Homo sapiens: one gene and its partners. The protein of the gene in region 6 interacts with the protein of the main gene of each other region in a biochemical or structural test. Each region holds a gene or a part of one and is shown on either strand. Other genes may lie near its edges. The genes, in order: HTRA3, MPP7, SIPA1L2, GRIP2, MAST2, TMEM225B and CARD11.

Region 1 (3,500 bases), on a different chromosome or scaffold from region 6:
TGCACCTCAGTTTCTTCATCTGTGAAATGGATAACAGTGGGACCCCCCTCACTGGTCACTGGGCAAATGAGATGATGGACTGAGTGTGCTTTGCACGGTGCCGGGCTCATAGAAGTTGATGTGAAGAAAGGATGGCAGGTGGACGCGTCTTACAGAAGTGGAGTTAGTGAGAGTGAGGGAGAGGGGTCGAGGAAGGGGAGGAGCTGGAAGGCGGTGTCTGTGGAGGTGCTGCCATGTGCTGGCCCTGCCGGAGGGAGTTTCATTGGCCCCGGTCAAGGCAGGGAGGGCTTCCTGTAAGAGGAGGGCCAGGGGCTGTCTTCCTTGCCTTCAGTGGCATGGAAGTGCCTGACCCATGGCACTGTGCACAAGGACCAGCCTTCTTGGTAAATCACAGGCAGGCTGGCGGCAGCACCTCCTCCTCCTCCCAGGGGCTGGCTGTGGCCCAGCTGGGTGTGGAGTTTCACAGCCAGAGGAGCCAGGCTGGCCCCACATTGAGCTCGGGTCTAGGTTGAGCTTTTCTGGGGCTGGACAGGTTGTCACATTTGCCAAGGGCCAGCACGGAGCAGGGGAAGCGCCCAGGTCAGGGCTTGCGGGGCCTGGCTGTGCACCTTGGGCAGGTCCCGTGGCCTCTCTAAGCCTTGTTTCCTTGCCTGTAAAATGGACTCAGTTCCTGTCTTGCAGAATTGCTGCAAGAATTCAATGAGATCACAAACTTCGGAGCCCAGCCTGACGTCCCATGCCCAAATCGGGTCCCGCCTGCGAGGTGTGGCCCGTGGAGGGGGAGGCAGCGGGTTCCTCTGGGCCTGGGCTGCAGCCCTCATCCCGCCTGCGTTCCACATGAACAGGTCTCTGGGCTTGAGGGTGGCAGATGGCAGCATCCACCCCACGGGGAGCCACAGCTGGACCTGAGGCTTGTGGGGGCACGGTTCACTTGGGGACATGGCTCGGTGGGGCAAAGTTCACTAGGGGACAGGCAAGTTTTCCAGAGGAGGAAAAGCAAAGGAAGCTGCCCTGGGAACTAGTTAGACCCAGGAGGCAGCCCCTTTAGTGGTGGGCGGGGCTGGGGGCTGTTGAGGGGGCCCCTGGAATGGCTCCTCTGTCTCTGAAGAGCATTCATTCGCTCCCTCATTTGCTTCCTGCCCACTGCAGCGGGCCAGGTCCAGCCCAGACGCAGGGGTGCAGGCCACAGGTACACTCCCAAGGGACTAGCTTTGGGAAGGGTACGAGGTGCTGTTGGGCCCAGAAGGAGAGGTGGATCACCACGCTTGCAAAGTCAGGGTAGGCTCCCCAGAGGAGGCGCTGCTGGCCTGGGCCCTGAGGAATGACAGGAAGGGCATATTCCCAGAGGAGGGAACCACATGTGCAAAGGCACAGTGACACTTAGGAGCCTGCACGCGCAGGAAGCAGAGCCGAGGTCCACAGGGGAGAGTGGCAGCACGTGAGGCTGCAGATGTCAATGGGACCAGGACACCCCAGGCCTTGAATGCCCTGCTTAGAGGTTGCCATCTGGTCTGTAGACCATGGTCACCGTTATGGACAGATGGGCACAGCCTGGGACCCATGGCTATCCACTCATGGCTCCTCCATCCCCAGCTCACAGCTGACCACTGGGTGGCAGAGGGGTCTGCTAATTGCAGAGGGCACTAAAAGAAGGGGCAGGGACCTTAGAGATGGAGGAACAGAACTGGGTGTCAGTCCCAGCTCTGCACATTATGTGCTAGAGGGACTGATGCATACAGTTGGGCAGGTTGTGCACTGCACAACTGCAGGGAAGCTGGCCACTCTGATATTTGTCAGTAAGGGCCTGGAGTTACGCAGTGTACAAACACAAGGTATCCCCACAGAGTATCTGGGCCTCAGTGTCGCCATCTGTTCCATGGCAGTTATGACTGTCCAGAGCCAGCACGTGGTCCTCTCTCAGGGTTGGCCACAGTCCCCCAGGACTCCTGGGAGTTCCATCAGGCAGGGCTGTTGGAGCTGGAGCCCTGGCACCCTACTTGTCTCCCCTGCCCTGTTGCGCCCCTTCCTCTCCTGGGATGTGACACCGGACACCTAGCCTCGGGCCTTGATTGCTTTGCTCTGTGTGAGGGTCTCCCTGACTGAAACTTCCAGGGCTTTAGATTCCAGTTTATTGAGGAAAAAAAAAAAAAAAAGGCTAACGGCTGAATCTGGTTGAGACTGACTGTTGACTTCAGAACTTTGGCTCGAGGATGGGGTGGGGGTGGAGGTTGTCAAAAACCCCCAAATAAACAGAGTCTGCTTCCCAGCCGTGGGGCCCACGGTTTTCCTGTGGAAAGAGGCAGTGGGAACCGCGTCCTCCCTTCCCCCTGATTCATGGCTGATTCATCTGCGTGTTGGGAGGAGGAGCTGGGGCACGGGGGCCCCTGCCCCCACCCCACCACCCACCGAGGTCCGCTTAAAGGGACAGGACCTGGTGGGGCCCTGCAGGGGTGCCCCAGGCTCTGGGGTTGCCTAGACCCTGAAATCCAGCAGACCTGGGCCAGCGCCAGGCCTGCCCTCCCTCAGTGATTGATCTTTGCCTCTAAGCCTCAGTCTCCTGGGCCATAAAATGGGCGAGTGCTGCTGCTTTTGTGAGGCTGCTTGGAGACTTGGTTAATCAGCTGACCCACATTCTTTCTTCAGGGTGCTCTTTGCAGACCTACTGTGTGCTGGCTCAGAGAGCATCAAGAAGGGCCCCCTTGAACTTCTCTCCCTTCTCTCTATCTTCCTCCCCTCCTCTCTCCGCCCCTCCTCCCCCTCCATCCCTTCCCTCTGAAATGTCTCAGCGGCTGTCTCACCCTGTGCTGGTTACCACTGGGGTGTGGAAGCGAACCAGATGGTCTCTGTCCCAAAGGAGCCTGGGGTGTGGGGTGGGCACGTGCGGGCTTCTCTTTGGAGACTCTGTGGGAAACAGGCCACCTCCCAGCCCAGCCCCACGGCCCTTCTGTCTCAGGCCTTGCTCTCCCTCCCTGTTTTATTTTCTCTTTGAAAAATGAAAAAAAGTCACTGTAACTTTACCCCAACCACAAATAACCACCATGTAGTAGAATTTTGATGTTTCCTGCAAGGCTTTTACTTAACGAATATTTCACAGAGGGTTTTAAAACAAATCATCCCCTATAAAATCGAGTGTCACCTATTTTAAGTGACCTCTGGGAGACCACACTGGGGAGAAAGTCCTTCCGGTGGAGGCCGCAGTGCTGTGCAGATCTTCAGGCTGCCGCGTCAGAGCTCAGGGGCCCAGCAGCCCAGGCGCTTGAGGGGGTCCAGGGGCTGGGCTTTGGCAAGCAGGGGGTGGACACGTTGGGGTCCAGAGAGCTTTCCGGCCCTGGGTGTTGGAGTGTCTGAGTCCAGGATGGAGACACACAGGAAGGCAGCCTTTTCTAATCACCTGTGGGAGGAGAGGTGCTGCCATTCCTCCTTCTGCTGTGTTCACACTGGGCCCAGGTCCCTGTGTGCCGTGGCTGCCTGCACAGGCAATGCGGGCTCAGCCTGTGGCT
Region 2 (2,286 bases), on a different chromosome or scaffold from region 6:
TAACATTTTTTTTTCCACTTTGAAAGTCACAGATGCAATGATTTTCGACGGGCAGGGCTTCACTGCATGCAAGAACGGCAGGATATGCTCTCTTATAGAACGGATAGACATTTCTAGCATTTTGAATTATATAATTCACTTGCTGAAAATCAGTAGTATCAAAGAAAAGTGAGAGAACCCATCTAAATATTTACAATATAAGAGTCTTTCCTAAACTTCTTTAACAATGGCAAGGTTAGGATGGTGTCTGGACAGTGTTAACAAGCATTTTGATGACAAAGAAATAACATCACATGAAAAGTTTTCTAAAATAAATCTTAGAGCAATTTAAAGAGGGGTGATCTATTGCACATAGATGAAAAATAATCTTTAATTGTATCAGTAATATGTAAAACAGGTTTTACATGTTTTAGAATAGAAATCCTTCTTCTAATTTATTGGAAAAATCCAAAACCAGCTAAAATAACATTTTGGGTGACTTCATAAATTGTCTTCTGAGGAATTACAAATAAAAATATCCTTTGTAATCATTTCTTGCCACAAGGCTACCATTCTTACTTATATTAATCCCAAAGGAAAGGCTTTTCGTTACATATATAATAACTGTTAAAAGTCTACTTTCCCTTATTAAATGTTGTTGAGTCACTGACAGGTACTCAAAAGGACTTCTCAAGCTATATTATGAAGGCCATTCACTCAAGGTAAAATTTCAGTTACTCCTTTAAGAATTATTTTAAAATGCACACACTGTGAACGTATTGCGAATATGTAAGAAAGTCTACACTTTTTGAATAGTAAGAGGACACCTTACTGCCTGCCCGGCTAAATCTGTGATGATCCACCCAGAAACAGCAGAGCTCACCTGTCTGTCTGGAGCTGCTCATGGCTGCTGAATTGATACCTTCAACAGCTAACATTCAAACTCGACAGCAGCAGCCACACCTGAGACCAGCAGAAGCGCTGAACTCCCATACATACTAAGCCTCTAGCTAAGTCTCTCTGAAAATTTCAGCCTCATCTTGGAGATAGAGCGGTATTGAAGACAACGAGAAGGTTTGAGGTTTTGCTTAGAATACAGTACTGTGCATATTTTGATTTCGGATCTTATACTAACACATGGCGTTTGAAATAAGGCTGTAAAAAGATACAAACAAAACCAGCATTCAACTTGAACCAAGATTGTACATCTATGACAGTGATATAGATTTAAAAACCCTACTACCAAAACTGTAATTGATTTCATCATGCACTCTATAGAAAAAGACAATTATGGAAATTTCTCTTAGTTATGAATGTAACCAGCTCACTGGCACCCAATGGGTCTCTGTCTCTAATTTGTCAAAAGTTGTTTTGAGCTCATTGAATGCCACAGTGAGGTCATCATTTATTATAATTTTGTCAAAAAGATGACCATATTGACTTTCCATTATCTGTGCAGATTTAATCATTTCTTGAAAATCTTCTTCCTACAAAAGGAAGTATTAAAAAAATAATTGGTTAACCAGGCCATTACCTCACTTCATATCAATGCAAACATTCTACAATTGGTTTACCTAATGCTGTTCTGTGTTCAGTCTTTCCCCTCAGCCAGAAATAAAAGTCATCCTCTTTAACCACAAGTGCTTCAGAAGCCATAATTTCTAATACTATTTCTATGATTTGCTTGTAACAAAAAACTACTCTGGCAAGAGTCAAAACTCCTGCCTTAACTGAATTGCAGGATAATGAGTCACTAGTCATCATTATGGGGAAATGTCAGTATTAAAATAGCTATTGGAGAAAAGAATTGTTTACTCTGATGTTTTGGCTGCATTATTTATGCTTATTCATAGGAAGGAATTTATAATATAAACTCCTTTTTCAGAGTTGGACAAATTTGTAAAAGGATGATTACCATGTTTTTTGTTTTTTGTTTTGAGATAGAGTCTCACTCTGTCACCCAGGTTGGGGTGCAGTGGTGCAATCCTGGCTCACCGCAACCTCTGCCTCCGGGGTCCTAGCAATTCTCCTGCCTCAGCCTCCCGAGTAGCTGGAATTACAGGAGCGTGCCGCCACACCTGGCTAATTTTTGTATTTTTAGTACAGATGGATTTTCTCCATGTTCACCAGGCTGGTCTGGAACTCCTGACCTCAAGTGATCCCCACCTGCCTCGGCCTCCCAAAGTGCTGGGATTACAGGCATGAGCCACCACGCCCGGCTGATTACCACGTTCCTTCGATGTCTCATTAAAAGTGTTTCAGGAGCCTTCGTGTCTCACATTTTTAAAGCCAGGAAGTATTTTAGTT
Region 3 (3,500 bases), on a different chromosome or scaffold from region 6:
CCACTTCAGTCCCTTATAACGTTAAACCACTGTGAAGCCTGTTTATTACTTTTTCTCATGGAGTATAGACTTAAAAGAATTTGTCTGCCAGATAAATTGTGATTATTAATAATTCCCCCTCCTGTTTTTGCATCAATCCAGACTTAGCATGTCTTTTGTAATCACATTATGACAACATGAATCAGAGAAATGATCTGATGCAATAAAGCTAAATAAACAGATATTTACACTGCATCTGGTCACTTAGTGTGAATTGTCTCTCTGTCCTCATACTGATGACATAATAGGACTGAAATAGTTTTGTCAACAGATCTTGGTCCCCTGTTGTGTCTCCTTTCCTCTCCTCCACCCTGAATTTCGGTCTTGGCTTCAGGTGTGCCTCAGTGTTAACACCATAGTTACTTCCTTCCAGCCAGTGGAATCAAAGAATCCTGGACCTGCTTTTTTGTCTCTGCTGTGAAAATAACTCATAACCCTCATGCCCGTGTTCATGCAGAGGTATCACATTATATCACACTGCTCAAGGATGCTCTCTAGGTGGAAGTTAGTTATTTTTGGAAAGGGAGATGGAGAGATAGGCTTCCTAATTAAGGTTATTTTTATTGATGAAGCCATGGCTGCCAATTCTTAATAAAATAAAGTCTGTTGGATTTATTATGCCCTGAAATCCCCAGGTAATTAGTCATTCTGGCTAGCTGAGTTTTGTAAATAGTTTGTGATTCAGACTTTGAAATACTAGAACATAAAATTATATATATGTTCATATTTATGCCAAAACTTAGTGCCAGCGTCTCATTCATATGCTGTTGCACATGTCTGAGTGTAAGTGGAATGAAAAACTGTTGTTTTGTGCACCCCGGTCACCACCATTTGATTCATTAATGTCCCCAGGGTCTGTTCCCCGAGATGATTTTAGGTTGCTAGATTCTGTTAGTTTTCTTGACTGCTACTTGTAGTTTTTCTCTTGAATTCTCAACTGTCACTTCTTGGTAGTTTTAAAGACTCCTCTGCAAGTGATTTATTTCCTCCACCTTTTCTGATGAGCTACTTAGTTTTTCAAGAGCATTGCAAATGACATCATCAAACTGCTTAGGTTTGAATGTGAAATAAATAAGCTCCAAAGAAGAATCTGAGTGTAGACACCCTGTCAGTGAATTGTGGGTGGATGTACGCTTATCGTTTGGCATTTTGGTGCTGTTGGGCACACTCTCTGGTTCTGAGCTTTGCAGTGGATTTATAAACGAGTCAGAAAGCAGAATTCTAGACTATAGTCACGCATCAGTTAACAACAGGGATATGGTCTGAGAAATGTGTTATTAGGCAATTTCGTCATTGCGTGAACATCATAGAGTATACTTACACAATCCTAGATATATATCTTTATTCATATATATATATATATTTTCATATTGAAAACCAAATGTCCCAGCACCATTACTGAATATCAGACATTTCCCCTTATTCATCTGCACTGCCAATATCAAGTGCCATGCATCAGATTTCTGTATATGCTCCATCATGATTTTATGGGACCACCGTCATGTATGTGGTCCATTGTTGACCGAAATATCCCTATGCGGTACATGACTGTGCTTTGCAAAGCCCACAAAATGAGGGAGTGGGGAGGCAATCCGTGAGGTCACTTTGTCTTCAGTGTTCTGTGATTCTGTGCTGTGGAAGGTGCTGTTGTGCCTGCAGATGGGCTCGGGCTGGGGAAGGAGCGGCCACCAGGAGCGAGAAGAAGGCCGAGCCCCGGCTGCTCTGTTCTCTCTCCAGCGCAGCTGTGAACTGTGTCCTGCCTCCTCCTATATTTAGCTCTTCCCCTGTGGTCCAGTGTGACTTCAAAGTGAAATTGGTTACAATGGCATCTGCTCCTGCTCTTGCTGGTCTCTTGTTGAGCCATTAAGGACTCCAGGCAGAGGCAGCAGCCCAGATTCTTAAGTGAAAAGTACAGTGAGGTGGAGGCCTCCTATGGTGTGGGAGTAGATTCCCATTCCCGCTTCAGCCACTGGACACAGTTGTGCAAGACCCTTCTGTCTGCAAACATCATGAGTTGGGTGAGCTTCATTGTATTTAAAAACAGAGGGCCTGGGCAGACTGGCACAGATAACGATGTTTTTGAGATAGCTTTTTTCTTTCCCTTTTTTGCTTTTCCCTTCTCTCAAGGATTTTCTCTTTGGAAACTGACTTTCAGGGATCTATCTTTCAATACTTTCCAGAGTGCTTTTATTTTGTTCTGTGCTTCAGGGTTCTGTGTAAAACTTCATTTTCAAGAGAATTAACTGGCTCCCAATCATGGCAAATGTTTAAAGTGCGATACTTTAATAATGTGATTTCTTCTTTATTGGGTAGTTAATGTGAAATGTCTGCTTTTGATGCTGAGGTGTATTTCTGTGACACATCATCACTGAAAGGCTGTTGAATAACTTTGTGAAAGGATTTCTGCAGGGGAGTGGCAGGACACAGGAAACTGTGTGACAACATCGCTTGCCCAGGCAAATCCATCTGTAGCTTTCAGTGAAATAGCTTTTCTTTTTTCTTGAAGACAGAGTCTCGCTCTGTTGCCCAGGCTGGCGTGCAGTGGCGCAATCTTGGCTCACTGCAACCTCTGCCTCCCGGGTTCAAGCAATTCTCCTGCCTCAGCCTCCCAAGTAGCTGGGATTACAGACATGTGCCACCACGCCCGGCTAATTTTTGTATTTTTAGTAGAGATGGGGTTTCGCCGTGTTGGCCAGGCTGGTCTCGAACGCCTGTCTTCAGGTGATCCACCCACCTCAGCCTCCCAGAGTGCTGGGATTACAGGCGTGAGCCACCGCACCCAGCCAAAACAGCTTTTTTAAAAGCAGTGAGGATAGTAGCAAGTAGAGTGAATGCCCAATAAGTCCCTTCCTTTCACGGGCGATAACCATGAAGACACATTGGTGCCGTTTGTCACATTACTGTTTCTCTGATGGGACTCATTGTGAATGTGCCATTTGCTGCTGCTTTGAGCTTTGCATTTGTGAAACAGGCTGTGACAAAGGGTCCCTTAGATAGGGATTCTAGTTGTGCTTGACCACGGTCAGTCATGTGAGCATCAGTGAGTCTGGTTTCCATTGTAGCAGAGCAGCAGGCTTTGCCTCCTTCTGGACCTGCTTGGCACTGCACACTGCCACCAACAGTGGGGCCAGTGCTGGAACTGTGTGGCAGAGCCCAGACACTGTGTGTTGACACGTGAGGTCTCCCCCGCTTGGTGACGAAATCCTTAACTTGTTAAGAAGTTGTGCACCTAGTGGGTTACTCAGGAGTTCTAAAACGGTTCTGTGCCCTACTTTATGCCACCCAGACCAGAATAGTTCTAGGAGGCAAAGTGAGTAATATTTGGGTAAAGAGAGGTTAAAACCAGATGGGAGGATGAAGCTGGGCCTCCGTGGTGACTCAGGAGTGAAGTGAAAAGTGGCTAAATCATTGTCTGAGCCTTCGGGAACGTTGTTTTGCTAGAGCCATTCTGCTGGCACAGG
Region 4 (3,500 bases), on a different chromosome or scaffold from region 6:
GATCAGGGAAAAGGGGAAATAAGGTGAGGTCACAGAAGGGAGGCAAGCCATTTAACAGAGAGAAGACTTTGGTCATGTTACCCACCCCTTGCACCATCTCTTGGGAGGGCGAATTTATTGTTGGTGTCTCATAAGAGGGTCCATGGATAGCAAGGACAAGGTCCTCAAACAGGTTTTATTGAAGGAGCCTGCTCAGGGGCTGTGTGGGAGCCTCTGGATGGGAAGGGGTGGGTGGATGATTCCTGCTTCTTGTCAAATCCTGTCCAGGAGGTGCCCATGAAGATGGGCACAAGTCCCGCCCGCTTGTCCTGACCTACGTGCGGCCCGGTGGCCCTGCCGACAGGTGAGCCGAGGCAGAAGAAATCCACACACTGCACTGACCTGCCCCAACTCCCCTGCGAAGAAGGTGGAGTGGGGTCACCATGCCCCTTCCCCAGATGAAGAGATCGAGGCCCTGAGGGAACACTCCCTGCCCGGTGTCATTCAGGGAGTTGTTGATGGAACCGGGATGTAACCCCAAATGAGGGAAACCTCGAGCCCTTTCTTCCCCAACATACTGCTGTCTCAGGGGTTGGGGTGTTTGGAGAGGGGCAGCCTTGGTGTCGTTCTTCCCTTTCCTGCTCCTTGGTTTTCCCGTCTGTGGAATGGTCCCTAAGAGTTGCTATGAGAGATTTGGGGGCACGCTGATTGGCCACTGCTGTAGCCGTCTGTGACTCAGTCTCCTGGGTCCTGGCTGATCGACCCAGCTCGGCCCCGCCTGGGCCCAGCCCAGAAGGGCCAGGAGGAGAGAATGTGGGGAAAGAACATGTCCAGTTCCCAGCCCCTGATCCCTCGGCCTCCCCAGTGGGAGATTCCTGGCCATTTTAAGAGAAGCCTGGAACGGCCTTGTCAGAAATCTAAATCTGTCCTTGGGACAGGGCCCTGTGATGAGCTATTCATAGAACCCCCGAGAATAGCTTTGGCCACCTGTTGGGAGAGGCGTTCCAGGCTGGGGATGCGACCCAAACCGAGGTGAACCCTGCTGGGGCCCCTCCCCTGGCCCCTGTTGAGTTCTTTCCCAGGCGCGGGTTGTCATCAGGCCAGAATCACCGCTGAGAAACCAGGGTGAGGGTGGAGCAATGGGAAGGGACCAGGACGGCTCAGAGCAGCCCCCAATGCCGTGTGGCATGGGCACAGCTTGCACCCTCTCTGGGCCCTGGTGCTGTCCTTTGTCCCTGAGGCAGGAGTTGGGGGTGACGCTTGAAGAGCACCCCCAGCTCAGACATTTCAGGGTTCTGCACTGAGTCTGTGAATTACTGCACACCCAGAGGAGTGGCAGGCGGCAGAGCCACCCCATCCTGTCTTCATCCCCCCCTTGCTTTATGCAGCTCCCCACTCCTGGAGTGGCTCATTCCTTCACTCACTCATGCGCCCCTTCACCCGTCCCCTCCTCCCCTTCCTCCCCCACCCATTCCCTGCTTCTTCATCCTCCATGTCCCGCTTCCCAGCGCCCTCCCAGACAGGCTGTGCCCAGTGCTGCTGCCGGGCCAGGCTGGTGACTGGCCCTTCCCTACAGGGAGGGCTCCCTGAAGGTGGGCGACAGGCTGCTCAGTGTCGATGGAATCCCGCTGCACGGGGCCAGCCATGCCACCGCCCTGGCCACCCTGCGGCAGTGCAGCCACGAGGCACTCTTTCAGGTGGAGTATGATGTGGCCACCCCTGGTGAGTTGGGGGCCTGAGTGTGTGGGTTGGGGCAGGAGGAGGCCTGGGATGGGGGGAGGTGGCAGTGGCCATGGATCTTTACCACTGCAAAGGCTGCATGACCTTATGACCTTGGGCCAGTCACAGCTTCTCTGGGCAGTAAATAGTATGTGCTAGGCATTGTTTGATGTGCTGGGGATCCAGCCTAGAACAACAGAATTGAGGTGTCTGTTCTCATGGAGCTGGCATTCTGGTGGAGAGAGGACAGTATCCAGAATAGATAAGATATGGTGTATGTCAGTTGGCAATAAGTGCTATGGAAAAAAGAAAAGAGGCAGGGGAGAGAGATGGGACAGGCTGGGGGATGCTCTCTCACTAGGGGAGTGAGGGAATGAGCGAGGCATGGAATGTCCAGGGACAGCATTCCAGGAGGGCGGAAGAGTAAGTGCAAAGGCCCTGAGGCAGGAGCATGGCCAGCATGGTTGGTCACAGTGAGGAGGCTGCCGTGGTTGGCACAGGTGAGTGAAAGGAGGTAAGGGCAGAGCAGGGTGAGGTGGAAGCCGGGAGGCCATAGGAAGCGGCAGCAGCTGTCCAAGCGAGAGCTAAGGGACTGAACCAGGCTGGTGGCTAAGGAGGGGAGAAGGCACGGGATTCAGGAAATATGATGACGGTCCAGCTGGCCTGATCTGCTGAGATTTAGACATGGGTGGGCGAGGGCAGGAGCTAAGGGTGCGGCCAAAGTTTTAATTTCCAGCCACTGGGTGTGTTAATGGAGGTGCCATTTCCTGAGATGGGGATGGGTTGTAGTGAACTTTACAGTTTAGTGCTGGTATACCACAGGCTCTTCATAAACTCAAGCAAATTCATTTCACCCAGCAAAGCCCTGGGATCACAGCCCCTCAGACCTGAGCTCCTGCCCCTCCTCCACTGCTATCTTATCTGTCAAATTGATATAACATTTGGTAGAAGATAAAAAAAGAAAGAAAAGGAATAAAAAATTATGTTAATCAAATGGGTATAACAGTTTCTTCCAGGCAGCAAGGATTAAATCAGGATAGCAGGGTGAGGCTGGGGAGGAAAGTGCTCGGTATTTGCATTTCAAACTTTTTTTCTCCGTCATGCCAGACACGGTGGCTAATGCTTCGGGACCCTTGATGGTGGAAATAGTCAAGACGCCAGGGTCTGCCCTGGGGATCTCGCTCACCACCACCTCCCTCCGGAACAAGTCAGTCATTACCATCGACCGCATCAAGCCAGCCAGCGTGGTGGACAGGTAAGGCACACCCTGGGTGCTGCCACCATGGAGGTGTGTGCAGGGGAGAGGCGGCCCAGAGCTTTGTCTGGCCTGGACCAGCCTCCGCCTTCACTCCCCTGCCTGGCCAGGAGCGGAGCCCTGCACCCTGGAGACCACATCCTGTCCATCGATGGCACCAGCATGGAACACTGCTCGCTGCTTGAGGCCACCAAGCTCCTGGCCAGCATTTCAGAGAAGGTGCGGCTGGAGATCCTGCCTGTGCCCCAGAGTCAGCGGCCACTGAGGCCCTCAGAGGCAGGTGGGTCCCCTCAGTAGATCTCAGGGCCCAAACCTGGGCAGTCATGAGGCCTGAGAGGCCTGGGACCAGAGCCCTGGGCAGGCTGGGAGGAGCAGGCTAAAATGTACTAGGACAAATCCTCATTTGCCCAGGGAAGCTCAAATTATTAAGAGCAGCAACTGAGGGTGGGAAGGTGGGGCAGAGAAACAACTTGAGGGTTTGAATTGAGTCTGCTGGCATAGATGCCCCAAAGCTGGTTTCATCACTGGTTGCATTAATAGGAGTATA
Region 5 (3,500 bases), on a different chromosome or scaffold from region 6:
AGGAAACATCCCAAGATCAGAGACTGTGCTTTATTCATGTCTGTATCTCCAGTGTCTAGCAGGAAGTAGGTACTCAGTCAAGTATTGCTGAAGATAAAATGAAGGACTCAACTTGTACAAACTAAACTGGGCTATGCTCCTGACGCTTCTCACCCCCAAGACCCCCACTGATGTGAGCCCTGCTCATGTGGGGGTGGCCTAGACTAATAATTCTCCCTGCCGCATCCCCTCAGGACCATACATTTGTCCTCACAAAAACCTGTTTAGTCCCCCAATGGTGGCAAATCATATTTAAATAAGGACCTAAGCAACAGAAATGGCAGTGGTTACCACCACAGTTTTGCTGTCATCAGGATACTTCCTCTATAGTCCTCCTCTAAATCTGCCCACCTGACTTTCCTAGAGTCCACTCACCAGGCATTCCAGGAGACGTGCTGGGCGGGCAATGATAATCATCAGCTTTTTCACCAGCTGCATCACAAAAGCCACTTCTGAGCTCTCTGAGCGCTCATGAGCCTATAGAGAAAAGAAGCGTTGCTTAATCTATTGGCCCAGTGTGGCTGGGCTAAGCAGGACCAGACAGGGCAGAGCTGACTCCAGGGAGAAACAATTCGGTAGCATAGAGAGCTCCGCAAAGCAAGGAACTCAGAGAAGGCTGGCTGGCTGTGAGAGGGAGCGAGTTGCTCATAGGGAACCATTTCTGCTTTAGAACACTACATGACACCAAGAAATGCCACACAGACATACAGCTGTACCTGCTCCTCCATCCAACAAGCCTCACTTACCCTCCAGACCCTAGCTCAAGGGGCAGCTCTCAATGGTGCCTTCACTGATGTTCACTTTCCACCCTAGACTGTAAGGAGTAGAAAGACCTCAAAGCTGAGGAGTCATATGACCAGAAAGTACTTCAGAAGGATCACTCTGGCTGCAGTGTAGAGAGTACACTAAAGAGGGCAAGGCTAAATGCAGGAAAACCCATTAGCAGGCAACTCTAATAATTCAGATGAAAAAGGCATAGGTCAAGGCAGAAGAATGCAGACAAGGGGATAGACGTGGGTTACTACAGAAGCAGATAAGGGGTGAAAGAAGCACGACAGAAGGCAACTACAACTTCAATTTTAGGAAAATTACAATGAATAAGTGAAATAGTAACTATAAGAAGCCATTTAGGTGATAGGTAAAGAATGTACTGCATTTGGTTTTAGAGAAAGAACAGCTAGGCAGAAAAGATAAGCTCAGTTCTGGGCGTGCAGTTTCAGGCACCTATATGAGAGTCTCTTGGGTATCTGCTTGGCCGATGGGCCTTTCTCTTTTTTCCTGAGAACTGCTCTGGTTTCTAGGAGCCACATTTGTACTGTGTGTCTGTACCTTCCCTCCCACCTCTAATAGCTGACCAGAGAGGATCACTTTCCTAGGAATTTAAAAAAGGATAGAAAGACAACTGTTAACGTCAGTGTGGCAGAACCGTTTAAGAACTGTGAAAAGAGATGCATACCTACCATGGAAATAGAGGAAAAGATGCATACAGAAAAAGGAAGAATGAAGACTTCCTGAGCTTCCTGGAGCTTCTGGTTTCTAGTTCTGGTTCCTTCTTAAGGCCTGGTTATATCCCTCGCTTCAATTCTCTAAGACCTACTCCTTTTACTCTTATAATGTTTCCCTTTACTGTTTAAACTATTCTGAATCAGTTTCTATTACGTGCAACCAAAGAATAAGAACCAATATAGGGAAGTCAAAGTGGAGGAGTCCAGCAGGCAGCTGGGTGCACTGATCTGAAGCTCAGGAGAACAGTAAGAGTGGCAGCCACATGTGGGAGTCCTCAGCGTAGAGATGACAACTGAAGACATGGGAGCAGGTGGCAAGACATCAGAGAGAGAGTGGAGGAAAGAGAAAGGGGAGACCAGGCATGCCGGATGGTGCCCTGTGACACACCAGTAGGAAGAGGTGGGCAGCAAAGGAACTTGTGAAGAGGCAGCAAGAGTGGTGAGAACAGTGAATTGACAACTGGGGAAGGAAGTTTAGGAAGTATTCACTGTGCTCCACCGAGAGGTGGCAGAAGATGGGAACTGAAAGTGGCCACAGGATTTGGCAATTGGCCAGTGAGTTCCTTGGTGAATTTTGCCTGAACAGTTTTGGTAGACTGGTGGGAAGGGAAACTGGAAGGCAGAAGATTGAGTAGTAAATAGGATACAAGGAAAGAAAAACAGTAAATGCTATTGTGAATAGTGCCGCAATAAACATACGTGTGCATGTGTCTTTATAGCAGCATGATTTATAGTCCTTTGGGTATATACCCAGTAATGGGATGGCTGGGTCAAATGGTATTTCTAGTTCTAGATCCCTGAGGAATCGCCCCACTGACTTCCACAATGGTTGAACTAGTTTACAGTCCCACCAACAGTATAAAAGTGTTCCTATTTCTCCACATCCTCTCCAGCACCTGTTGTTTCCTGACTTTTTAATGATTGCCATTCTAACTGGTGTGAGATGGTATCTCATTGTGGTTTTGATTTGCATTTCTCTGATGGCCAGTGATGGTGAGCATTTTTTCATGTGTTTTTTGGCTGCATAAATGTCTTCTTTTGAGAAGTGTCTGCTCATGTCCTTCGCCCACTTTTTGATGGGGTTGTTTTTTTCTTGTAAATTTGAGTTCATTGTAGATTCTGGATATTAGCCCTTTGTCAGATGAGTAGGTTGCGAAAATTTTCTCCCATTTTGTAGGTTGCCTGTTCCCTCTGATGGTAGTTTCTTTTGCTGTGCAGCAGCTCTTTCGTTTAATTAGATCCCATTTGTCAATTTTGGCTTTTGTTGCCATTGCTTTTGGTGCTTTAGACATGAAGTCCTTGCCCAAGCCTATGTCCTGAATGGTAATGCCTAGGTTTTCTTCTAGGGTTTTTATGGTTTTAGGTCTAACGTTTAAGTCTTTAATCCATCTTGAATTAATTTTTATATAAGGTGTACGGAAGGGATCCAATTTCAGCTTTCTACATATGGCTAGCCAGTTTTCTCAGCACCATTTATTAAATAGGGAATCCTTTCCCCATTGCTTATTTTTCTCAGGTTTGTCAAAGATCAGATAGTTGTAGATATGCAGCGTTATTTCTGAGGGCTCTGTTCTGTTCCATTGATCTATATCTCTGTTTTGGTACCAGTACCATGCTGTTTTGGTTACTGTAGCCTTGTAGTATAGTTTGAAGTCAGGTAGCATGATGCCTCCAGCTTTGTTCTTTTGGCTTAGGATTGACTTGGCGATGCGGGCTCTTTTTTGGTTCCATATGAACTTTAAAGTAGTTTTTTCTAATTCTGTGAAGAAAGTCATTGGTAGCTTGATGGGGATGGTGTTGAATCTATAAAAATTACCTTGGGCAGTATGGCCATTTTCACGATATTGATTCTTCCTACCCATGAGCATGGAATGCTCTTCCATTTGTTTGTATCCTATTTCACTGAGCAGTGGTTTGTAGTTCTCCTTGAAGAGGTCCTTCACGTCCCTTGTAAGT
Region 6 (3,500 bases):
TATTTTATTTTAGAGATGGAGTTTTGCTCTGTCACCCAGGCTGGAGTGCAGTGATGTGATCTCGGCTCACTGCAACCTCTGCCTCCTGGGTTCAAGCGATTCTCCTGCCTCAACCTCCCGAGTAGCTGGGATTGCAGACATGTGCCATCACGCCCAGCTAATTTTTGTATTTTTAGTAGAGATGGGGTTTCACCATGTTGGCCAGGCTGGTCTCAAACTCCTGGCCTCAAGTGATCCACCCATCTCGGCCTCCCGAAGCACTGGAATTACAGGTGTGAACCACCACATCTGGCCAATAACTATTTTAATTAACGAAAGTTAAATAGCCACGTCTAACTGGCAGCTGCGGTTTGGAACAGTGCAATTCTAGAGAATCCAAAGGGAGGGCCTCCACAAGACAGGTTCCTAAATCCAGACCGAGGACAAGAAGCAGGGCACTGTTCCCTGGACACTCACCAGCCACTATGAACAGAAAGATGCCGAAGCCCAGCACGTAGTAAGGCCACAGCACGGAGAACTGCAGGGGGCCGAGCTTCATCCTCAGAGCCTTGATCTCCAGGGCATGCAGCACCAAAGCCAGGAAGGCACAGGCCCCTGGAGGGTCACAGGGAGACACCCTCGGTCTCCTCCCATGCTACCCGCCTTCCCTCCAAACTTCACCCCCTGTGGCTCCTGCCTGGAGGCTCCTTCATCCTTGCCCCCTCTCTGAAACAAAACTCCTACCCAGATGCCTGTCCCTCCCTCCTTTCTGACTCATCTTCAAAGCCCATGTGCTTTACCTTCCAGGGAACCATCATCAGAACTCCCTTTCCTAGCACCCTCTGCATCTGCCCTTAGCTCACCTCTGCACCTTAGCAGAGGGTGCAACACTTTGGATTAAATGCAATCCCATTTTCCTACTGCTCTACCTCCACCATTTGCCTAGGAGCCTCTCAGGGTGGAGCCTGGGTCACCCTTTATAAATGTCAAAAGGGGCCAGGTGCAGTGGTTCATGCCTGTAATCTCAGCAATTGGGAGGCTGAGGCAGGAGGACCGCTTGACACCAGGAGTTCAAGGCCAGCCTGGGCAACATAGCGAGATCCCCATCTCTACCAAAAAAAAAAATGTTTAAATTAGCCAGGAATGGTGGCACATGCCTAGAGTCCCATCTACTTGGGAGGCTGAGGTGGGAGGATCACTTTAGCCTGGGAGGTTAAGGCTGCAGTGAGCTATGATAGCACCACTGCACTCCAGCCTGGGTAACAGAGTGAGACCCTGTCCCTAAAAAGAAAAATTATGCCTCTTTTGACATCACAGAGACTGAGCACCCCTCTTTCTCTGGACTCCTCCCCAGGCCCTAGCGAAGGTCAGGGATCACCTAGCTGTTCCACACCTGTGAAGAAGCTGATGCAGGCTAACACAAAGTTTTGCTTCCAGGTCCTCGGGAAGAACTCGGATGCAAAGGGCATCATGATGAAGGTGGTGACGAAAGCCAAGAAAACTGCAGAGAGCAGGAAAACCCGGCCGAGGATGATGTAAACTGCAGGGGAGGGAGAAGTGGGGCTGAAGCTGGGAACCCTGACCCGGAAAGGTCAGAGTCCCTCAGAGCCTGGGCAGGGCTGGCCCCCGGAGCCTCCACCACCCTTAGATCCCAAAGCATGGCCTTGGGACCAAGGTTGTGACCATGCCACTTTGGCCCCAAGAATGCTTTGGCCCCACAATTTGATTCCCAATGGCATAGAAATATAGGAAAAAAAATTAAATTGACAATGTCAGACACTGAAATCACCAGTTCTTAATAAACATATTTTTTCTTTTTTTGAAACAGGGTCTCCCTCTATCGCCCCAGCTGGAGTGTGGTGGTGCAATCTCAGCTCACTGTAACTTCGACTTCACAGGCTCAAGCAATCCTCCTGCCTCAGCCTCCAGAGTAGCTGGGACCACAGGCATGTACCACCACACCTGGCTAATTTTTTTATTTTTATGTTTTGTAGAAACAGGGTCTTGCTCTGTCGCCCAAGCTAGAGTGCAGTGGCACCATCATAGCTCACTGCAGCCTCAACCTCCTGGGCTCCAGCGATCCTCCCATTTTGGCCTCTCAACGCGCTGGGATGACAGGCGTGAGCCACCGTGCCTGGCCTTAACAAATGTTATTATGGGAATTTGGTTGTACCAAACCATGTATCATCCACTAGGGGAAAATGGTGGTTTTAAAAAGCAACACAAAATCAAACTCTTGTGATAAAATTTGTTGCACATGCAAATGTGAAGAATCACACCTGTATTGGTTACCCTGAAGTAATTCGCCTGTGGAAAATCAAAACTTTGTGAGGTCAAAATGTTCTGAACGCTGAGGGAATCCCCACATCTTTATTTAATTTTCCTAGTTAATAGGAGTGAGACTGGGTGCAATGGTTCACGCCTGTAATCTCAACACTTTGGGAGGCTGACGTGGGAGGATTGCCTGAGGCCAGGAGTTGGAGACCAGCCTGGGCCACATAGTAAGACCCCATCTCTACAAGAAATTTTAAAAAGTTGGGCACGGTGGGGCACACCTGTAGTCCCCGCTACTTGGGAGGCTGAGGCAGGAGGATCACTTGAGCTGAGGAGATGGAGGCTGCAGTGAGCTATGATCACACCAGCCTGGGCAACAGAGCGAGATCCTGTTTTTACAAAACCTAAAATTAAAAAATTAGCTGGGAGCTGTGGTGCGCACCTGTAGTCCCAACTACTCAGGAGGCTAAGGTGGGAGGATCGCTTGAACTCAAGAGTTGGAGGCTGCAGTGAGCTGTGATCACACCAGCCTGGGTGACAAAGCGAGATCCTGTTTTTTACAAAACATAAAATTAAAAAATTAGCTGGGAGCTATGGTGAGCACAGGTAGTCCCAACTACTCAGAAGGCTGAGGCGGGAGGATCGCTTGAACTCAGGAGTTGGAGGCTGCAGTGAGCCATGATCACGCCACTGCACTTCAGCCTGGGCAACAGAGTGAGTCCCCATCTGTAAAAGCAACAACAATAACAGAAGTAGTGAAATAGACCAAAATTAGCAGAGCCAGAGTCTGATAACAGGGTGATTTGTTCTCTGACTGCTGGCATGATGCAGACCCATGTGAAAATGAGTTTGCATACCCTCCTGAGCTGGCAGAGGTGGGCAGCTGGCAGTGGGATAAGGAGTCAAAGTTGCTGTTGAAGCCCCAGATATCCCAGAGTCTACCCTTGGGTTAACCAAGCCTGGTTAATTTTTTGTGTTTTGTTGTTGTTGTTGTTGTTGTTGTTGTTGTTGTTGTTTTGAGACAGGGCCTCACTCTCACTCCCAGGCTGGAATGCAGTGGCATGATCACAGCTCACTGCAGCCTCGAACTTCTGGGCTCAAGCAGGAGCCCTCCAACCTCAGCCTTTTGAGTAGCTGGGACTACAGGCACATGCCACCATGCTCAGCTAATTTTCTCATTTTTGTAGCAACAGGGTTTGGCTATGTTGCCCAGGCTGGTCTTGAACTCCTGGCCTCAAGCAATCCTC
Region 7 (3,500 bases), about 97 Mb from region 6:
ACTAAAAATACAAAAAGTTAGCCGGGCGCGGTGGCGGGCGCCTGTAGTCCCAGCTACACTGGAGGCTGAGGCGGAAGAATGGCGTGAACCTGGGAGGTGGAGCTTGCAGTGAGCCGAGATCCCGCCACTGCACTCCAGCCTGGGTGACAGAGCGAGACTCCGTCTCAGAAAAAAAAATAAAATAAAATAAATAAATAAATATATATATATATAACTATAAAATATATAAAAACATTAAAATAAAAACATAAAGCATTAAAAATAAATCTTAAAATATGTAAATAGCTAGGCATGGTGTCACGTGCCTATGGTCCCAGCCACTTGGGAGGCTGAGGTGGGAGGATCACTTGAGCAGGAGTTTGAGGCTGCAGTGAACCAAGATAACATCACTGCAGTCACTCTGGCCTGGGCCATACAGCAAGACTCCTAGCTCTAAAAATAAAAATAAAAGACAAAAAGAAATTAAAACGGTGAGGGAGCCTGGCCTTGGCTGTGAGGACCATGCTGCCTCGGGGTGACATCCCGCCAAGCTCACCCAATAACGACGCTCTCGTGTGGTTGCTTCGCTCCCGGGTACCCGTGTTAATTGGGGCTGTTTGCTGTGAAGTGTTCGTTTTATTGATTTCTCTACCCACTGAGTGCCACTTGCCATTTATCAACCCGGCGAGGGGCCTCCCGGTCCACCGTCCCCCACCCCGCTGGCCCTGGCTGGCCCTGCTCAGGGAAAGGGAAGCCACACAGCCCTGGCTGGATCTCAAAGGAGGCCTTGGGGCGGCTTCCCGGGCTGGCCCTTTGGACGTTGGAGTGGCCAGGCCAGGGTACAAGAAAAGGCACAAGGGACAAGGGACAGGCTGCCCGTTTCTGGGAGCTGTTTCCTCGGGCTGCCTGGGGGTGGCTTCATCAGAACCCCGGGCTTCTGTGTGGCTCTGCCACTCCAGCCACAGAGGGACTGAGAAAGCAGAACTGAGGCCAAGTCGTCCCTCCCAGTGCTCCTGGGAGACACCCAAGGCCTTGGCCGCTGGTCCTGGTGTCTCGTGGGTGCCTGCCGGCACTTGCTTTCCTTGCCCTCGCCCTCCCCTCCGCTGGGCTGTACCCAGTCCCTACCCTTCCTCCAAGAAGCCCTCCTTGATCGTCTGACAAGGCAAACTTTCCCTCCAGAGCTCAGCCAAGGTTCCTGCATTTGTCACACACTCTGCCTGCCCCCCACCACACCTCCCCTCCCTGGCACACAAGCCCCAAGCAGTGCCAGCCCGAGGTGACCTCAGACACTGGATGCCCGGGGCAGCAGCCAGGCCTTCACACTGACGGTGGCTTCCAGGACCCAGCCCAGGGGCCCCGTCCTCCGTGGAAGGTCTTCGGAGCCCCAGGGGTCTGACCGCCACCCTCTCCTGCCCCTGCCAGAGCTGGACCCTGAGAGCGAGCTGGGCAAGAACCTCAGCCTCATCCCCTACAGCCTGGTACGCGCCTTCTACTGCGAGCGCCGCCGGCCCGTGCTCTTCACACCCACCGTGCTGGCCAAGACGCTGGTGCAGAGGCTGCTCAACTCGGGAGGTGCCATGGAGTTCACCATCTGCAAGTCAGGTGAGCGGCGAGCCACGGCCACCTGGGGAGCCCCGCGGGAGCCATGAACCAGGACGACTTCCCCTCTTCTCTTCCCTCCTCCCCTCTTCTCTTCCCTCCTCCCCTCTTCTCTTCCCTCTTTCCTCCTCTTCCCTCTTTCCTTTCCTTCCTCCTCCCTTCTCCCTCTTCTCTTCTCCCTCCTCCAACTTCTCACTCCTCCCCTCCCCCTCCTCACTTCCCTCCTCCCCTTTCCTCCCCTCCTTTTCTTCTTCCTCATCCTCCCCTCCCTCCTCCCTCTTCTTCCCTCCTCCTCCTCCCCATCACCCCTCCTCCCCCTGGATAGGTGGATGGATGGATGGAAGGATGGCTGAATGGATGATGGGTGACTGGGTGGGTGGACAGATTGATAGATAAATGGGTGGGTGGATGGATGGATGGAAGGATGGGTGGGTGGATGGGTGAGTGGGTGGATGGATTGGTGGATGGATGGATGGATGGATGGATGGATGGATGGATGGATGGATAGGTGGGTGGATGGATGGATGAGTGGATGGATGGATGGATGGATGGATGGATGGATGGATGGATAAGGGGATGGGTGGATGGGTGGATAGGTAGGTGGACAGATGGGTGGGTGGGTGAGGGGTCGGTAGATGGGTGGGTGGATGGATGGGTAGGTGGGTGGGTGGGTGGAACAGGAGATTTATTTAGACTGGTGATCAGCCTTGCACCACGGTGCCTGAGCTGCTTTGTCCAGTGAAAGGTATTGCTGAGGTGCCAAGCACCTGCTCTATGGGCTGCCATGGGGAGTATGGAGAAGGTTAACCTTAGCCCTGCCCTCAAGGAGCTTCACAGTCTAGTCGAGGGGAGACGAGATTCATTTAAACATGGCTGGAAGGGGATCGGACATCGAGTTCTGTAGAGCCCAGAAGGTGGCAGGCAGGGCCTGAGTGGGATGGTCAACCCAAGGCCACCTCGTGCTGCCCTCAGGACTGGCCCCTCTCTCTGCAGATATCGTCACAAGAGATGAGTTCCTCAGAAGGCAGAAGACGGAGACCATCATCTACTCCCGAGAGAAGAACCCCAACGCGTTCGAATGCATCGCCCCTGCCAACATTGAAGCTGTGGCCGCCAAGGTGAGGCGGGGACTGGGAGGTTGGATGGGGCCAGGACCCTCCGTGATGATCCTCATGAGGCCACCTGGGCCAGGGACAAGGGTGGGATGAAGAGTTGTTTTCACCTCCCCGTGGCCAGACCTCTCCTTTTCCCCTTGTCCCAGCAGCTGCCCCGTGTTAACTCCCTCTCTGCACCCTTGTTCCCTGGGCTCTGAAGTGAGTTTTTATTTTGGAGCTTTCTATTTGTGTTGGCTTCCTGGAGCTGGTGTGTGTTCGCATTATTTAGGAGTGTGTGTGTCTGGTTGTGATAACAAGGGCCAGAGATAGAGAACGAGCTCATCAGGGCGAGAGACAGGATGAACATGAAGGTGACAGGTATTGCATTCACCAAACGAGGGGAAAACGGGGCATCACAAGGGTTATTGGCAACGATGCAAAAAGGTTGTCTGTGTGCAATGTGGAGTCTTTGGAGCCAGACAATGTGACCTAAGCGTTGAGCTCTTCCTCGTCCCAGCACTGGATGAAGAAAAGGCTCTCTGTCCGCGTCACTGGAGGGCTCCCCCAGCTGCCGGGGGCTGGCTCCGTGGTGGACGCTGACCTTGGGGATGGCAAGAGCAGATGGTGGTGTTTTTGTTTTTTTTAAGTCTGGGCCACAGCAGTTTAGGAAATTCTGATAGCTGGCGTGGATAGAAAGTGAGCAGACAGGGTTGGAGCTGAGATTGTTTTTAGCTGAAAAGAAGAAGCCTTCCAGCAGATCTGTGCTGTAGAAATGTGGGCCATGGTCCTATTGGTGGGGAATGGGGAGCAGTGGCCCCGCAGGAGGCC

What was found.
Region 1: the proteins of TMEM225B (region 6) and HTRA3 interact in a test that uses a peptide from one of them, tested with the Homo sapiens proteins (one large-scale study listed by IntAct).
Region 2: the proteins of TMEM225B (region 6) and MPP7 interact in a test that uses a peptide from one of them, tested with the Homo sapiens proteins (one large-scale study listed by IntAct).
Region 3: the proteins of TMEM225B (region 6) and SIPA1L2 interact in a test that uses a peptide from one of them, tested with the Homo sapiens proteins (one large-scale study listed by IntAct).
Region 4: the proteins of TMEM225B (region 6) and GRIP2 interact in a test that uses a peptide from one of them, tested with the Homo sapiens proteins (one large-scale study listed by IntAct).
Region 5: the proteins of TMEM225B (region 6) and MAST2 interact in a test that uses a peptide from one of them, tested with the Homo sapiens proteins (one large-scale study listed by IntAct).
Region 7: the proteins of TMEM225B (region 6) and CARD11 interact in a test that uses a peptide from one of them, tested with the Homo sapiens proteins (one large-scale study listed by IntAct).

What each region holds. Positions count from the first base shown.
Region 1 is NC_000004.12:8,276,254-8,279,753, forward strand, and holds part of HTRA3 (serine protease HTRA3 isoform 1 precursor), read left to right. Parts: intron 1-3,500. UniProt on the Homo sapiens protein: Serine protease that cleaves beta-casein/CSN2 as well as several extracellular matrix (ECM) proteoglycans such as decorin/DCN, biglycan/BGN and fibronectin/FN1.
Region 2 is NC_000010.11:28,052,779-28,055,064, forward strand, and holds part of MPP7 (MAGUK p55 subfamily member 7), read right to left. Parts: intron 1,467-2,286; coding exon 1,287-1,466; 3' UTR 1-1,286. UniProt on the Homo sapiens protein: Acts as an important adapter that promotes epithelial cell polarity and tight junction formation via its interaction with DLG1. Involved in the assembly of protein complexes at sites of cell-cell contact.
Region 3 is NC_000001.11:232,508,134-232,511,633, reverse strand, and holds part of SIPA1L2 (signal-induced proliferation-associated 1-like protein 2), read left to right. Parts: intron 1-3,500.
Region 4 is NC_000003.12:14,519,843-14,523,342, reverse strand, and holds part of GRIP2 (glutamate receptor-interacting protein 2), read left to right. Parts: intron 1-267; coding exon 268-343; intron 344-1,555; coding exon 1,556-1,701; intron 1,702-1,720; exon of another isoform or gene 1,721-2,149; coding exon of another isoform or gene 2,150-2,198; intron 2,199-2,805; coding exon 2,806-2,953; intron 2,954-3,063; coding exon 3,064-3,233; intron 3,234-3,500.
Region 5 is NC_000001.11:46,016,612-46,020,111, reverse strand, and holds part of MAST2 (microtubule-associated serine/threonine-protein kinase 2), read right to left. Parts: intron 517-3,500; coding exon 415-516; intron 1-414. UniProt on the Homo sapiens protein: Appears to link the dystrophin/utrophin network with microtubule filaments via the syntrophins. Phosphorylation of DMD or UTRN may modulate their affinities for associated proteins. Functions in a multi-protein complex in spermatid maturation.
Region 6 is NC_000007.14:99,604,767-99,608,266, reverse strand, and holds part of TMEM225B (transmembrane protein 225B), read right to left. Parts: intron 1,520-3,500; coding exon 1,373-1,519; intron 595-1,372; coding exon 457-594; intron 1-456.
Region 7 is NC_000007.14:2,911,368-2,914,867, reverse strand, and holds part of CARD11 (caspase recruitment domain-containing protein 11), read left to right. Parts: intron 1-1,401; coding exon 1,402-1,581; intron 1,582-2,571; coding exon 2,572-2,696; intron 2,697-3,500. UniProt on the Homo sapiens protein: Adapter protein that plays a key role in adaptive immune response by transducing the activation of NF-kappa-B downstream of T-cell receptor (TCR) and B-cell receptor (BCR) engagement.